Regions from separate parts of the Homo sapiens genome. Here region 1 is linked to region 2. Evidence: fine-mapped QTL for protein levels in blood plasma. A gene starts in region 2. The other region holds a variant in brackets. All regions are shown on one strand. Distances are between the middles of the regions.

Region 1 (5,360 bases), 35 kb before region 2:
ATCTGTTGAAACCTTGGCTGGAGGTGCGTTGTGGGCGCTTGGCAAGCTGGGCCTCAGGGCCCCTCGGGAAGGAGCAGTATTAAGAACTTGTTTTGCTATCTCAAGGACAAAAAAACAAACACCGCATGTTCTCACTCATAGGTGGGAATTGAACAATGAGAACACTTGGACACAGGAAGGGGAACATCACACACCGGAGCCTGTTGTGGGGTGGGGGGAGGGGGGAGGGATAGCATTAGGAGATATACCTAATGTAAATGACGAGTTAATGGGTGCAGCACACCAGCATGGCACATGTATACATATGTAACAAACCTGCACGTTGTGCACATGTACCCTAGAACTTAAAGTATTAAAAAAAAAAAAAAGAACTTGTTTTGCAAAGGAGCCCTGGGTCAGGCACAGGGTCTGAGGCTGGCCTTGTGAGGGCCCCTTTCCTTGTGGGGACAGGCCACCACACCACACGGCAGATGCAGCTCAGGGCAAGATGCAAGGTGGCAGGACCCAGGAGAGATGCTCAGTCCAAAGTGGAGCGGTGTTCAGGGGCTCTGGGCTGGGAGATTTACGTGGGGGTCTTAACTTCTTGAAGTCATGAACCCCTCTGAGAACAAGGCAAGAGCTAAGGCTTGAGAGCAATGTAGGCAGCCGTACGCGCTATTTCACTCCAGCCTCGGGGCTCTCATGGACCTCCTGAGGCTGGCCCGTGGGACCCAGGGAAAGAGCCTCGGCCTTGCAGAGTCTCTTACAACCTTGACTAGCTGCCTCCCACAACCCTGCTGGGATCACTACCTTACAAAGGAGGAAATAGATGCCATGTAGAACTTGCTTGGAGTCACACAGCTACAAGTGTGACGCCTGAATTTGAAGGCAGGTGTGTCTGACTGTCCTGTTCCCTTAGCGGTTCAGCACGGGGCCTCTTCAGCCGTCCCAAGGCATCCCCAACACAGAAGGCGTCTAGGGAAGGGGTCAGGGGAGGGTTCAGGGAGGAGGGGATGTCTGGGCTCAGCAGGTGGCATGGCCATGGGAGCCTCAGGGCTAGGGAGAACCCAAGGCTGGGAGAGAGGCAGGGCCTTGCTCAGGACGTGGCAGAGACAGGGGTGAGCTCAGGCGGAAGCCCGAGCTGTCAGGCAGCCCTGAGTGGCCGGAGCGGAGTGGTGGACCCAGGAGTGGGGAGACGCCTCATCCAGCAGCCCACGGTCTGTTTCCTTCTACCCCTGGATCAGGAGAGAGCAGGAGGCCTGACGTTAGCTAGACTTCCCTCTGCCTAGCATTGTCATTACTCAGCCTTTGCTTTTCTTGGCCTCACAAGCAAGGCTGGGGACAGGAACGAATATGACAGTGTCTCAATCACCATAGGGAGTCAGAGGCATTTCCCTCTAATCTGAGGCCTCCCCGTCTGAGGCCCTGTGTATTTGCTTCTAGAGCTGCCTTAACTAAGTACCACACACTAGGCAGCTGCAAACAACAGAAGGGTATTGCTTCACGGTTCTGGAGGCCAGGAGTCTGGAATTCAGGTGTGGACGGGCCTGCTCCCTCCAAGCCTGGAGGGGGAAGACTTCTTGCCTCTTTTCTGGCTTCCGGTGGTTGCCAGTCCTCCTGGCAGGCCCAGACTTGCGGCTGCCTCCCCGAAGTCTCCGCGTCTTCTTTCTTTCACACAGAGCAGGAGCATATGTCTGTCTCTCTGTCTCTTCTCTTCTTTCATAAGGACACTAGTCCTATTGGATTAAGAACCCACCCTACACTCCAGTATGACCTCACCTTTGCTAATTTCATCTGCAACAATCCTATTTTCAAATACGTCACATTCTGAGATACTAGGGGTTAGGTCTTGAGCATATCTTGTGATAGGAACATGGTCCTACCCATAACACCCTGTGGGGTAATTTACCTTTCCCTAAGAAGCTCTGACCCTGAACACCCTTGGACTGTGGCATCCCCACCCTCACACCGGCCTGCAGCAACCGCCGACCTGGCAGAGCCAGGAGCTGTGGGGGCTTTCACAGCCCATGCCTGGGTGACCAAATCCAGCTCCTACCACCAGAACCTTCCTTCCAGGGCGGCTTGTGAGTGGTGCCATGCTGGGAACACGCAGCACGCAGCTTAGGGCACCGGCTGCTGCC[A/G]CCAGCCTCCGGTTAATCTCCTCCAGCCTCAGCAAGAATGCAGCGGTGACAGGGGCTCTCAGGAAGGCAGGGAAGGAGGGGAGACCTGGTGCTTTTCTTTCAAGTGGAGAATTCTCCCCACAGATCTGCTCCAAGGTGTTAGCAGGGAGGGAGGGAGCCAGGTTTCCAGCCTGGGCTTCCTGACCAACAGTCCCTGGCCAGCCACTGGGCCCTGGTGGAGGCGGCTGTGAGGCTGGGGTCAGGGAGGGGTGCAAAGCCCGCTCAGCTCTGGGCCAGGTTTCCAGCAGGAGGACCTAAGACAGCACTGAGTCAGCTCAAGCCCACCTCAGAGTCAGGCTGGCTTGGTCATTAATTCCCTCCTTTGCTCCACCAACATTCACCCAGTACTTATTACATAGCAGGGGCATGCGGACCGGGAGACCAAAGCAAAACAACAGGAGAGATGCTGAGGTCAGCCACACTCAGAGGAGGGGGCTTGGGGAAGGGCCCTGGATCTGGTTTGGAGAGGCAGGGAGCATTCTCCAGTGGGGACATGTTCCAGGTAGAGTGCATGCAAGTCAAAGGAACCGAGACCTGGAGACCCTGGGGCTCTCCGAGGGTGCCAGTCATCCCTCAGGAATGGGATGAGCCCCGATGCCAGGAAGGGCAAGCGCTGAGGCCAAGGACACAGGCAGGAGTCAGACGACACGGCGTCTGTACCAGGGAGCTTGGGTTTAATCTTCTGAGCCACGGGACGGCACTGATGGGTTTTAAGCCGTGTAAAGACTTGATCCAATTTGTGAATTGGATCATCCTGGCTGCAGTGGGCAAGCTGCTGGGGTGCCAGGAATTGTTTGGAAGTCATTGGTCCAACACATGGCAGTGGTGTGACCACCTGGGAGAATGACCCCGCAGAGCAGACAAGTGGCCCAGGACGCACCTTTCGGAATGTCAGCATGGGGAGGGAAGGCCGGGAAGAGGAGCTGGTCAGAGAGAGTGTATAAGTGGCTGGAAGAGATAGAAAGTGGCCTTCAGAAGGCAGGCGGAGGATGGTTAGGGAAGATGGGATTGTCAGTAGCATCAGATGCAGCCAAGAAGTCAAGTGATGCAAGAACTGAATGTATCATTGGCTTTGGTGATTGGGAGGTGGCCTCCGTGAGTGCAGCGTGAAGGAGGTCGAAGCCAGCGGGCTTGCCACAGGCTGACAGGCAGCTGGAAACTTGTTCCTTGTGCACAGCAGTTATGAAGGCTGGGGAGCAGCCTTCTTAGAGGAGGAGGAGGAAGAGGAGGAAGAGGAGAAGGAGGAAGAGGAGGAGGAGGAGGAGGGGGAAGAGCTGCTCCTGATCAAGTTCCCTTGGGCATTGCTGGCTGAGCAGGAGCTTCAGCTTGCAGCTGCTTTGGGACCATTCACCCTGGATGGAAGCCTGAGTGAATCATTACCCCCAGGGTCTAAGGTGCTGCATTGTAGCAGCAAAGAGCCCCCATTATAACAGCACTCGGCTGATGGCCTACTGCACGCCAGGCACTGAGCCAGGGCTTTGTGCACACTATTTCATCGAGTCCTGCACAGGGGCATTATAGCCTGGGTGCTGAGGTTCAGAGAGAGGTAAGTGACTTAAGCAAGAAGCTCTGCTAGTCAGTAGCAGAGAAGAGATGTGAAGCCAGGACGACCTGAACCCGAGGCTGTTTCAGCTTCATCCTGCTGTTGTCCTAACTCCTGGGAGATATGGCTGAGAAGTTCTCTTTGGTCCTTGGCTGTTGGGTGGTAAGTGGTGGACAGGTGGCCATGCTTATCCAACCTGGGCCAGGAACTGGACTTCAGGTGGCTGGATCATTCATGGAGAGAGCGGCAGTGGCTAGGGTTGGCATGAGTCAAGGTAACAAATGGCCGATGCTGTCTTCTTGAGGGGTTCTCTGCTCTCAGGGTGGTGGTAGAACCGTGGAGGCAGTGGGATGCAGGTACCAGGGGGTTCACCTGGAATGAAATCCTTAGCCCTGGGACCCTAGATGGGCTCTCGGTCTGAGGTCAGGGTCAAGGGTCACAAGTGCTAGACAGGGTCCTCCATGATGGAAGGAGCCTCCAGAATCCTGGAGGGTAATTCACAGTAGACTGTAGTAGCCCTCTGAGGAGTGAAGCTTTGAGTGGTGGCCATCTCTGGAGAGAAGGAGGGTACAGCTAGTGGAGTTGATGGTCTAGGACAGCCCAGTGTTCCCTAGCAGTCATCCTCTGAGGCTGCCACAATGGCTCCGTGATTTGGGAGCAGAGATGCTGCACACAGTTGACCCTCACATCTATAGCAGCCACAGCTGGATGGTGTGACAAGCATTGCTGGGTGCTCTCTTTTCATCTGGGCACACAGCAAGACTGTATGCCCAGCTTCTCTTGCAGTTAGATGTGGCCGTGAGATTGAGTTCCATCTCAGTGGAGGGAACAGTCTGATGAAATGTGACTGCTTTTCTAGGCCTGCCTGTAACTATAAAAGCCTTCCCCACTTCACCAGTTCTTCATGCCCTTTCCCCTTTCATTGCTGGATGTCAACATCCCAAGTGATCTTGGGAGCCATGTGTTGAAGGTGACAGATCCCGGGTAATTGAAGACCTCTGTGGCAGAGAGCTCCTCCCCCAGCTCCAGGGACTGGGCCCACCTGTGACTGTTTATGTGAATGAGAATTCCACCTCACTACGCTTGTGCCATTATCATTCTCAGGCTTGTTTCTTGCAGCATTAACTGATCCTGTCTAATACAGACAGCCACAAAGCCGTTAGGTCCTGAGATCTCTTAGCTTTCATCTCCGGCTATTCTGTATCTGTTCAGCAGTTTTGACTCCCCCTAGCCTGGAGCTGATGTGGAATTTGAACTCTCACGAGGCACAAGCCAAGTCATTTTCTTTGGATGATTATGTTCTGATGTGCTGATGTACCATCTTGGGGAGCCAGACCCTGTAAAGTGGTTCATCCCCCCGCTTTACTGTGGGTGTAATTGTGCCTGGGGTGTTGACCTCAGCTAGGACCAACTTTCTCCAAATAGACAGGGGCAGAGGTCACCTGTGCTGGCTTCCTGTTGCAATTTTATGTCCCCACCAGAGCACAAATAGCACTCCCCTAGGTGAAGTGGCTCAGGAACAAGGAGGACAGACAGAAATGGGTTTCTCAGCTCCTGGCAGCTCATGCTGCTACCAGGCCTTTCTCCTTCTCTAGGAGGCTGGCTGTGAGGCAGGAGGGGAAGAAAAAAGGTGACAGTGTTTCACTTTTGTTTTGTTT
Region 2 (5,361 bases):
TAGGAGTGTGGGTGTGGGGTGTGCATAAGCCACGTGGCACCCAAGATACTCTTGTGGCACCTCTGTACCTCCCCATCGCGGCTGCTGGGGGCTGGCTGACTTGGGAAATGGTATCAGCTGTGCTGTCCCGTCAAGACCCTAGCGGCTCAGGAGTTGTTAATGTCAGGGTGAACCTGAGGTCAAGGGTCACTGAGAGTGACCTGGTGACCTCCTCCCACGGCTCCTAGAGCAGATTTGAACCCACCCTGGCAGTGTGAAGAATCCATGGTTCTCCACCCTGTGACAATGGTGGGGGATGGAGGGGCCCTTCCAAGATGGGGCCAAGCCCAGCCCTCTCTGACCTCTCATTCTGAGTAGCAGGAGAGCTGTGCCTGGTGTCCTTGGGGAAAGGGGAAAAGGCAGATCACGCCCGAGGCCAGGCCTCTGCTCAGGAGACCCAGCCCAGCCTCTGCTCCCAGTGGCCTGAGTGGAGGAGGCCCGGTGGACAGTGGGCATGTGCCACTGAGCCGCTCCCGCTGGGCCCACCTTCAGTACCGTGGGTTTGGTGAGGGTAGGGCCCACACCACCCACAGGGAAGAGTGTGAGGGACACAGAGTCAGACACACAGACACACCAAGAGGAGAGAGAGAAGGAGGCAGATCCAGAGCCAGTTCCAAGGGCCTCTGGGAGGGAGGAGAAGACTTCAAAGCGCTCCCAAACAGCTTATAAACAAGCCAGTGGGCGGGGCAGCCAGCATGGGCTGGGGGTCGCTTTCTGGAGGGGCTGGAAGCTTGCACGGGGTGTGTGGAGGCCATAGGCCCGGGGTGGGCAGGAGGAGGGCCCAGCCTAACCTCTCTGTGACTCGGTTTCCTCTCCCGCGCTAGGGAGCTCCCTCCTGGGGCTGCCGTGGGGTCAGCAGCAACGTGCAGGTGAAAACACTGTGTGGGCTCCAGGCCGATCAGATGTTATTTATTATTCTGAGCTGTGTTTTGGTGGGAGACTTGGAAGGGCTGGAGGGAGAGTCAGAGTGCTTTGGGCTCCTCTCTTTCCCGATGCTGCTTTGAGAGTTCTCAGAGTAGAACGTCCAGGAATGGGGCCCGGGAAGGAGAAGTCCGTGGCTTGAGACAGGACCAGGTTGGGTGTGGGGGCTTTCTCCATCAGCCCCAGGAGTGGGGGTAGGATGGCCAAGCTTCCCCTGCCCTGCCGTGTGCCCCTCTCCTGCCCTCCTCAGCACCCCCCAACCTCTGCTCGGTGCCTCCCCTCCTCCGACCCCCTCTCATCTCTCCCACACCCTCTAATGGTCTCTTGGGACTGCCCAGAAATCGGCCTCCTCTCCTTGGATACTTGTCCTGGCCTAATGGGGCTGTGACAGTTTTTCTAAGTCCTGCTTATAAATGTGTCACTGTCCATGTCCCTTTGTGCTATCAAAGGAGGCTGCGCAAACCGCGTTTGTCCAAGGGCTGTGTGAAGGCCCCCGCGCGGAGCAGCTGGAACACGGGCTGATGAAATTACGGGGAATTCAAAGCAGCCGGCGTCGCCCGCTGTCTGGCTTCATTACGGGGACTGGCCTCGAAGGGAAGTTTATTCCAATAATTTAGAGGATTAGGATCTGACACCCTTCATTAGCGATTTGACATAAGCAGAAAAGACAGATCCTGCAGAATGGCCGCACAACGGGAAGGGACCAGCTCAGGCGGGGAGAAGGCAGCACCCGCCCGGCTGGGAAGGGGAAGGGTCTGGGTGTGGAAGCGAGGGTCCCGTGGCCGTTTTACAGTCCTGTGAGATGGCGAGCTGTGTTCTTGAAGGGGAAAGTGGACGTGGGGAAGGAGCGGCCTGGGCTCAGGCCTCAGTTTCCTTAGCTGTAAAGCGAGATTACCTTCAGGATCCCTTCCGTATCTGATGCGTGTGGGGGCCACTCCACCTACTGTCCCCGGGACACAGCAGCTCCTCAAGGCCCTTGTGGTTTGGCCTTGGAAAGGTACCTCTCTTTCGGGGCTCTATGTGCCTCCGCCCCCTACCCCCAGGATCGAGTGACCAACTCGAAAACACTCAGACTGCAGGCTGCTCTGTGGCATTTTAGATAGAAGCCATTTGCTGCCAAATGGGGGAGGAATCGCCCCCAGCCCCTGGCAGCTTCTGGCTCTCTTCCCGGCCCCTCCACAAATATAGCCCCTGATGTTTCAAAAATTTCTTGTCCAGTCTGTGAAAACCAGAGTTTGGGCTGTGCCTTGACAGCAGTTCTGGCAGATGGATGGGGGAGGGGTGATTTTAAAAGGCCCCTGCCCACACCCAGCAAGCTGGTGTCCCTGTTTCCTGTACCGTGGTGGGGTAGCTGTGCGACATGGGCAGGTTGCTTAGCCTCTCTGTGCGTCCTTTCCTCCGATCTGAAATGGAGGTGCAGTTTGTTGTGAGGATTAAATGAGATGATGCGTTCAGAGAAGCCACACGTGTGAAGAGCCCAGTGCATCTGGCAGCTGGTACCACCAGGACTGCTCACTCTGTGCGACCTTGGACAAGTCGCTCGCCCTCTTCGACCACAGACCTTCTCCTTTGGGAAGTGGGGGAGGCCAGACAAGGCTGGCAGTCAGAAGGAGCTCACTGAAGAGCAGCCACTGTGGTCGTCAGCGAGGGCAGCTGGACTCCGGCACAATCCTGAGACACTGTGACCGCGGAGGTTTTCTCGGTGTGTCGATGGAAGAGGGAGGAATGTGATCCGTCCCAGCCGCCGGCGGGGCCAGAGCATATCTGGTATGTGTCTCTGGAATGATTTGGGGAAAATTAACTGAAGTTGGAACTTAAGACGCAAACTGCCCTGGACACAGAGATACAGAGCTGTCCGTGCGCACACCCCCCACAAAGGGCCGGGGCCGGGGTGGGAGTCGGCTTACAGGGCACAGCGCGGCGCAGGCCCGCCCTGGAATGGCCGTGAACTTGTTGTTTTTCCACGTCATTTGCTCTCAAATGTACTATCAAGCCGGGCGATGCTAACCCGGTGGCTGCAGGTCCCTCCTCGTAACAAGCGATTGTGTGTTCTTTAGAGGTGGCCAAAGGGGAGGAGGGGGCCCGGCCCCAAGGAGGTGGGGGAAAGGGAAACAAGCCCTCCTTCAGAGTGAGCTTGCGTGTCCTGGAGCCAGCTCCCCGCAAAGCACATGCCATTTCTGGCCCTTGAAGGGGTTAAAGGCCTCCTGGAGTCAAAAACAAGCAGGTGTCCCACCGTGCCAGATACGCTGCCTAAACTGCTTCCAGCTTCTTTTTTTTTTTTTCCCCCCTTCTGCAATAAGTCTGTGATCAGCCACGGGACAGAGGCGCCAGCAGCCTGCCTGTGACAGGCATCAGGTTAGCTGGCTCCCACTCGGGTGGCGCGCCCAGGATATAAATCCGGGCGCGGGCCCCTGCTGTGGCTCCTCTCCCTGCACACTCAGGAGAGGGAGCTTCCTTCTAAAGACCTTTCTTTTATCTGAAGCCGCACAGCCCGGCAGGCTGTGCTGACTTGGTGGAGGCAGCAGCGGCAGAGCAGCCTGAGCAGCAGCCTGAGCAGGAAACCTGCTGGGGTGGGGAGGGCAGGTGTCTGCAGCCCCTGAGAAGAAGGCCCTGGTGGGCCCCAGACCCTGGCATCGTTTCAGGGGAGGTCTCTAGCCGCCCCAGCCTGCACCATGTGGGCCCCAAGGTGTCGCCGGTTCTGGTCTCGCTGGGAGCAGGTGGCAGCGCTGCTGCTGCTGCTGCTACTGCTCGGGGTGCCCCCGCGAAGCCTGGCGCTGCCGCCCATCCGCTATTCCCACGCCGGCATCTGCCCCAACGACATGAATCCCAACCTCTGGGTGGACGCACAGAGCACCTGCAGGCGGGAGTGTGAGACGGACCAGGTGAGTGGGGTCCAGAGACCAGAGATGGACCACGTGAGCCTGTGAGTGACGGGGGTGGGAGCCGTCGGGGAGGGACTGTGTGGGAGTGTGAGGAGGACAACGTGAGTGGGGTCCAGAAGCCACAGTGTGAGGCGGACCAGGTGAGTGGTGTCCGGAAGCAGGAGTGTGAGATGGACCAGGTGAGTGGGATCCAGAAGCCACAGTGTGAGGCAGACCAGGTGAATGGGGTCCAGAAGCCGCAATGTGAGATGGACCAGGTGAGTGGTATCTAGAAGTGGGAGTGTGAGGTTGACCAGGTGAGTGGGGTCCAGAAGCCGGTGTGTGAGGCGGACCAGGTGAGTGGGGTCCAGAAGCCACAGTGTGAGATGGACCAGGTGAGTGGGATCCAGAAGCTGGAGTGTGAGGCGGACCAGGTGAGTGGGATCTAGAAGTGGGAGTATGAGGTGGACCAGGTGAGTGGGGTCCAGAAGCCACAGTGTGAGATGGACCAGGTGAGTGGGATCCAGAAGCTGGAGTGTGAGGCGGACCAGGTGAGTGGGATCTAGAAGTGGGAGTATGAGGTGGACCAGGTGAGTGGGGTCCAGAAGCCACAGTGTGAGATGGACCAGGTGAGTGGGATCCAGAAGCTGGAGTGTGAGGCGGACCAGGTGAGTGGGGTCCAGAAGCCAGAGATGGACCATATGAGCCTGTGAGTGATGGGGGTGGGAGCCACAGGGTGGGGACCATGCAGGAGTGCCCTGCAGGTCCTAGGAAGGTGAAGGAACACAGGCCCCGTTCACCTGGAGAGAAACAGGGCACCATCCTGTCTATTAACACCGAAGCCTGGAAGGAGAGGTGGGAGCGATGTCCCAGTTCATCAGGGACTGGAGCCCGAGGATTCCTCCTTCATGCGTGCTGAGGGCTACTGTGGCCAGCACCGTGCCGGGCACGTCGTGTATGTTGGCATGACATGTCAGCATGGTGGGCATCAGCAGCCCATTCACAGGTGAGAGAGTGGACACAGAGCCAGGCACGGAGGGCACAGTTGTCATGGCCAGTGAGGGAACGATGAGCTTGGAACTCATGTCTAACAAGAAAGCTTTGATTGCATTGGACTCCAGGCCACCTCCTCAGGAGTTTGGACCCTGAGCCTGAGAGAAGACCAGGCTGACGGCAGGCCAAGCAGGAGCAGCTCTGAATGGATCTCTGGTGTCCCTGGGAGGAAGGAGACCACGTTTCAGCCTCCCAGCGTCCTTGGTCCTGCCTTCTGCTCTGTATCAGAGGGCACTGCTGCAGGGCAGGGCCAGTTCTCTTCTAGCTCCCGAGTCATTCCCGAGGGCCATTCCTGCCCACCCCCTCTGGGGCAACAGGCTGTGGGACCTACACCTGCTCCAGGCAGAGCTATTTCCTGCCCAGTCTGGCCAGCTCTGAGGGCAGCACGGAGTCTCCCAAGGCTCCAGATCCAGGCTGGGGCATCCCCAGGGAACACGAGAGACACTGGTTCCCCCATAGATGCCTGGTTACCCACAGGAGAGCAGAG

Which allele goes with the higher level. Alleles are on the strand shown, and positions count from the first base shown. The strength of an association depends on the size of the effect and on how common the allele is.
As copies of A replace G in region 1, the plasma level of the protein whose gene starts at base 3,281 in region 2 goes down (moderate association).

Evidence for each region. A credible set is the group of variants that fine-mapping cannot tell apart. PIP is the chance, under the fine-mapping model, that this variant and not a neighbour inherited with it causes the effect. The UK Biobank Pharma Proteomics Project read protein levels with antibody pairs (Olink). The fine-mapping took linkage between variants from a reference panel, not from the people measured, so its PIPs are less certain.
Region 1: its variant is the best candidate, but not a certain one, in a credible set for the plasma level of the WFIKKN2 protein (UK Biobank, PIP 0.84).

Annotation. Positions count from the first base shown.
Region 1 is chr17:50,797,662-50,803,021 of GRCh38, forward strand. No RefSeq gene overlaps it. Among named protein-coding and RNA genes, the nearest start is that of MIR8059, 32 kb to the left of the region's middle. RefSeq lists enhancers at 924-1,474, 1,475-2,025, 2,026-2,575. The variant A/G (reference allele first, on the strand shown) is at 2,121.
Region 2 is chr17:50,832,306-50,837,666 of GRCh38, forward strand. It overlaps WFIKKN2 (WAP, follistatin/kazal, immunoglobulin, kunitz and netrin domain containing 2), which reads left to right and starts at 3,281. Exons shown (of 2, transcript NM_175575.6): 1 at 3,281-3,842. The coding sequence starts at 3,633. RefSeq lists enhancers at 1-472, 473-993.